2 separate regions of the Homo sapiens genome follow, and region 2 is linked to region 1. Evidence: fine-mapped expression QTL. Tissue or cell type: NK cells. Region 1 holds a variant in brackets; the other region holds the start of a gene. All regions are shown on one strand. Distances are from middle to middle.

The links. PIP is the estimated chance that this variant, and not a neighbour inherited with it, causes the effect.
Region 2: TPD52L2 starts here. The variant in region 1 is fine-mapped to the expression of TPD52L2 in NK cells (Gilchrist 2021, PIP 0.95). The same link has a PIP of 0.9 or more in CD4 T cells, monocytes, monocytes after LPS, monocytes after interferon gamma, monocytes after triphosphate RNA and neutrophils.

Annotation. Positions count from the first base shown.
Region 1 is chr20:63,889,635-63,892,470 of GRCh38, reverse strand. TPD52L2 (TPD52 like 2) reads right to left here. Exons shown (of 7, transcript NM_003288.4): 7 at 933-2,621. The coding sequence ends at 2,526. Among named protein-coding and RNA genes, the nearest start is that of DNAJC5, 4.1 kb to the left of the region's middle. The variant T/C (reference allele first, on the strand shown) is at 1,358.
Region 2 is chr20:63,863,833-63,866,492 of GRCh38, reverse strand. TPD52L2 (TPD52 like 2) reads right to left here and starts at 1,223. Exons shown (of 7, transcript NM_003288.4): 1 at 1,109-1,223. The coding sequence starts at 1,127. It overlaps ABHD16B-AS1 (ABHD16B antisense RNA 1), which reads left to right and starts at 1,420. Exons shown (of 2, transcript NR_165314.1): 1 at 1,420-1,669; 2 at 2,223-2,660. RefSeq lists enhancers at 1-491, 1,213-1,933, 973-2,172, 2,266-2,495 and a silencer at 1,756-1,805.

The DNA of each region.
Region 1 (2,836 bases):
CACCTAACTTTCCCTGCTCTTACATCTGGGGTGAGCCCAGCTACCTCTGACCTCCAAAGGAAGACTGGTGCTCCCACTAGTTTTCCAGTGGGAACTCCAAAGACTAGGAATGGATACATGCAAAGCGCCAGACCAGGGGCAGAGTGGAGGTTCCCCCTCAAGGGTCTTTTCCTTTTTCTTTTTCTTTTTTTTTTTTTTTTTTGAGACAGAGTCTCGCTTTATCGCCCAGGCCGGAGTGCAATGGCGTGATCTCGGCTAACTGCAACCTCCACCTCCCGGGTTCAAATGATTCTCCTACCTCAGCCTCCTGAGCAGCTGGGATTACAGGTGTGAACCACCACACTCGGCTAATTATTTCACTTTTTTGTAGAGTCAGGGCCTGGCTACGATGCTCAAGCTGGTGTCAAACTCCCAGGCTCAAGTGATCCTCCCATCTTGGCCTTCCAAAGTCCTGAGCTTACAGACATGAGCCACCACACCCAGCCTACTGTTTTTAGTTGAGATGGAATCCCGGTATGCTGCCCAGGCTGGTCCTGAACTCCTGGGCTCAGGTGATCTGCCTCACCCTCCAGAATGGCGGGGACTACAGGTGTGCTCAGCAGCAGCTCAGTGCTTGCAGGGGCAGCTGGCGAAGCCTCTGGAGCTCCCGGCCCAACCTGGAGCCTGGTGAGCTCCTCCTCCGCCTCCTGGGGCTCAGTTTCAACTCCTCTTCCCAAGACGCTGGGTCTGACCTCACAGGTTGGCCATATACCATTCTCCCCTCACAGCTGGCTCCCCTTGTCCCAGCATTGAGGACCTGCCCTTTGTCTTTAGCACTGTCCCCTGCCTGCCTCTCCCAAGGGTGCGGACTCATTAGGGCAGGTACCGTGTGCCAGTTCATTTACCACTCTTATCATGGTCCCGAACGATACATCACACAAGCCGAGGCGGACTTTCCCCCAAAGGAATGCTTTATTGACAAATTACCCATTATTATAATAACTTTAAGGAAAAGATACATCGGTCAACACCCGCACAACCTGCCTTCTCACCACACCCCACAGGCCGATTTTAACCCTGGACGAAGGGCACCGAGCGCTGGGCTTCCCTGGCCCCTGCATCTCTGTCGTGTGTGGAGTGCCATCCCCAAGGGTGTCTGAACTGTCCGGGGACACGGCTGTCAGAGGACACTTGCTCTACCGAACAGGACACCTTGAGCTGAGCAGCCCTTCCCCTCCCGGGAGTGGCAGAGCCGGGCACACCACAGGCAGGCCCTCAGTGTCCTGCCAAGAGCCACTAAGGCACAGAGCTCCCCCTGCAGACCACGCCATCTGACATGCAGGGCCCCGGTGTGCGAGAGAGGCTGCTGGGGTGCGAC[T/C]ATTTAGTAACAGGAAGAGATCTTTGTAGCTCCTGAGAAAAAGACTGTAACGGCAATCCTGGCTGATGCCCACGCCCCACCCTCCACCTGACCTGTGGGGTCGTTTCATCCCAAGTACAGCAAGCAGGAGGGTTGGAGTCACTGACGAATGTGAGCCGGGCCAGGCCCATGCAAAGGCAGCACTGAGAAGGGGGGCACAGTTCTTTTAAAGGGTGCTAAAGACAGGGTTTTCCTTCTCTTGGCCCCTCCCATTCCCAGAGGCTCAAGAGCCCTTTAGGGCAGGGCATAGGAGCCAGCGGGAGCTGCCACGGTTGAGAAGAGAAGCAGGTTTTGTACACTGGGATGGAGTGTGCGTGACATAAAACACCTCAACTGGAAGAGGCTGCCACGCAGGCCAGGTGTAAAATTCCACACAATGCTCACAACCATTAAGGAACCCTCATCTATATACATATAAAAATTAGAAAGAAATAAAGCATAAGGCAATGTAAGGCTTGTATTTCAGCTTGAGTCCAAAGAAATAATATTCTATGAGGCTAAAGCTGCTTTGCCTAATTTAAACTTTTTGAAAAGTCCACTGCATTTAAAAAATAATGAATTTGCTTCCGTTAAAGCTAGATTCGCGTAACAATCAGGCAGCTGCTGAGGGTCAGTTTCCTTTCTGGGGGTCTCAGAAAATGGACAGTTTTCTCGTTCGGCATTTTGAGATAAAAAATTGCGTAACAGGTAGGACTTGCTGGGTGATTGCATTCCTTCTGTGAGTCAGGGAAGGAGGAGGAGGAAGAAGTCAGAAAATGCCACTTATTTTATGCTTAGAACTCTTCAATCCTTCAACATTCTGATGGGCTAACATGATTCCCAAAGGGAGCCTGGGCTTTGGCTCAATATTCTTTCAAACCCTCCGCCCTGTCCACTTCCTGCACCCCTAGGAAGGACAGCACAGTGATCTGTTTCATCTACAAACGTGAGTGTAAAACATCTGTGTACAAGCCTGTGTTCTTCAAATTCATGCAAACGCGGCAGCCACATCTCCGCGTGGATGGGCAGGACTGTCCTCAGGGCCGGCTCTGCTCATCCGCCCTGGCTGGCTGCTCCGCTGAACAGAGCTGCGGCTGTGATGCTGAGGCTGGGTTGCGTGTGCTCTGCAGCGGGTGAAGCAACCACAGGCTTAGAAAGGTGCGGGATCCGACAGGGGCTTGTCACCACTCCCCGCTGAGGAAGGGAGGTTGTCACTGCCGTTCTCTCTGTCACCCACAACCTTAGACTACAGGAGAGAAAAGATGAAGACAGAAAAACCTGAGACAGAGCACACAACACAAGGCAGATCCCAGGCCCATGCTCAATGCTCTACAAAAGCTTATGTAACACGAACACTGCTCAGCAGGGACAGGGAGCAAATCACGGACGGGCACCAGCCCCAACAGGTCTCCAGAGAACGATGCCAAATGAAGACAGTGAATGCCAAAAAGCTGCACACTG
Region 2 (2,660 bases), 26 kb after region 1:
TGAGACTCCATCTCAAAAAAACAAAAACAAACAAACAAAAAACACCCTCCAGAATAATGCAGCACCTAGGAATTATAAAGCTTAATATGTAGCCGGGCACAGTGGCTCACGCCTGTAATCCCAGCACTTTGGGAGGCTGAGGCGGGCGGATCACAAGGTCAAGAGATCGAGACCATCCTGGGCAACATGGTGAAACCCTGCCTCTACTAAAAATACAAAAATTAGCTGGGCCTGGTGGCGCGTGCCTGTAGTCCCAGCTACTCAGGAGGCTGAGGCAGCAGAATCGCTTGAACCCGGGAGGTCGAGGTTGCAATGAGCTGAGATCGCGCCACTGCACTCCAGCCTGGCGTCAGAGCAAGACTCCGTCTCAAAAAAATAAAGAAAGAAAGAAAGAAAGAAAGAAATTTAGCATCCCTCTCTAGAGCCCCAAAATGCAAGGCAGACTTTTATCATCTTCTCAAGATTTTAATCTCCTGGGCTCGCTCCACGCCCCTCAGTGGCCATCTCATACTGCTCTGGGGAGACTGTTCTGGAAACAGGCCTGGTATGCTGGGTGTGCCCCTGACTCACTCCACCCCCTCTCCATGAGGCAACCCCTAAGCAGGCTGAGCTCCGAGCAGAGTTGCTGCCCAAGGGGAGCTCTGCTGAACGCGAAGACCCCTTCTCTGCTCGGGAGCCGCCCTCAACACCTCGGACTGGGTCCAGGGCCAGACAGCGTGAACCCGAGGGCCCCGCGCAGGGACCGGGGGGTGGCAGAGCAAGCAAGAGCAGGGCACGGGGTGGGCGGCATAAGCGAGACCTGCTGGGAGCGACAGAACCCAAACTACGGGAGCAACGGCGGGCGCCAGGGAACCACACCTCGGAACGGTCCCAGGGGAGACCAGGAGGGCGGCTGGAGAGAGCCCAGGAAGCGGTCTGGGCCGCGGGCAAAAAACACACCACGACCATCATAAGCTTCGAGGTCAGTGGCCCCGGGAGCTGAAGAGGGGCCGCGGGGTGGGTGAACCGAGACCGAGAGGACAGAGAGTCGCAGACGCGACCCCGGGAGACGGAGAACAACGGGCAGCCTGGGCCCATCTGCGGCGAAGGGGCCGGGCCCGGCAGGTACCTTGGCCGGCGGAGTCCATGTTCGGGCGGCGTCCGGACCGCTGTCGCGGGCGCTATGGGAGCCGAGCGGGCGGCGCCGGGAGAAGCTCGCCGCGTACACACTAGCCAGCGGAACTGCCTCAGCTCCGCGGCGTTTCGTAATCCGCGATGCGACGGCTACTTCCGCCCGGGCACGTGCTCCGCCTTCTTCCCGCCCCCACCAGTGATATCCAATGAGAGTGCCGCTTGGCCCGTCCTGGTTTACCCGACTCAACCTGATAGGCCGAAACTGCGGGCGAACCAGGAAAGGGAGGCGTGGTTCGGCGGGAATCCATTCCAGGTTGACTCCACCAGCGAGAATCACAGGTAGAACGGTCAGAGTAGCGGGAGGACTGGGAAGGTGGGAAGTGGGAGGACCGTCCAACATGGCGCTGTGGAAAGCCAGCGCAGGGCCCCAGGGGATCTTCCGGGGCGGATGCAGCTGCCTAGGAGTGCTGGGGCTCGCGCGCCTCGGCGGCTCAAACTCTGACCCCTTGAGATCCTTTCCAGCCCGACCCCTTACTTTAGGGGTCAGCCTGCCCCCGTAAGTCCTGTTATTTATTGTATTTATATTCTTTTTTTAGTTGGTCCTTTTTTGTTTGTTTTTGAGACGGAGTTTCACTCTTGTTGCCCAGGCTGGAGTGCCATGGCGCGATCTCAGCTCACTCCAATCTCTGCCCTCCGGGTTCAAGCGATTCTCCAGCCTCAGCCTCCCGAGTAGCTGGAATTACAGGCGCGCGCCAACACGTCCGGCTAATTTTCGTATTTGTAGTAGAGACGGGGGTTTCGCCACCTTGGCCAGGCTGGTCTAGAACTCCTGACCTTAGGTGATCCACCCGCCTCGGCCTCCTAAAGTGCTGGGATTACAGGCGTGAGCCACCGCCCCTCACGCCTGGCTAGTTTGTCCTTTTCATGGGGACTTTTTATTGTACGCGGGTTACTCTGAAAAAGATCGCGATTCGTCCCCTCGCCCTGCAGGCGCCGCTGCCGCCTCGCCTCGGGCGTGGACCCTGCGGCTCGGGCCTGCGCGTGTGCACCCCGAGGTTGTCTCACTTCCTGTTCAGGGCGACCAGCGCTGCGCCCTCCCCACTCCACAGATGAGGAAGCTGAGGTTAAAGTCACTTGCCCCAGGTCACTCCGCAAGTTGAAGCGCAACCAGGATACTCTGGAACAGGATGCCTGACTTCAGAGGAGAGGCGCGTAACCACCAGGCAACTGGCCCCACGAAAACAAGTCCCGCAACTTCCCTTCTTTGGCTCCTACTTGCTCCCGGAAGAAAAGCCTTAAACGGTATTCAAGCCCTTTAGGATCTGATGTCCTAGGACTCCACTCTGGGCTTCCAGCCTGGGGTGGTACTGGTCCCTAGGCATGGAAGCTCCTCCCACTGCCCCTTCCTTCACCCGGCCACCTCCTCCCACAGGTGTCTTCCTGGTACTCTTGCACAGGCCCGAGTCCCTTACCACCACGGCCTTAGCCTGCTCTCGTGCTCTCAGTAATGTTTTCTCCATTTGCTGCCTTTCATTCTTTCCAGAGAT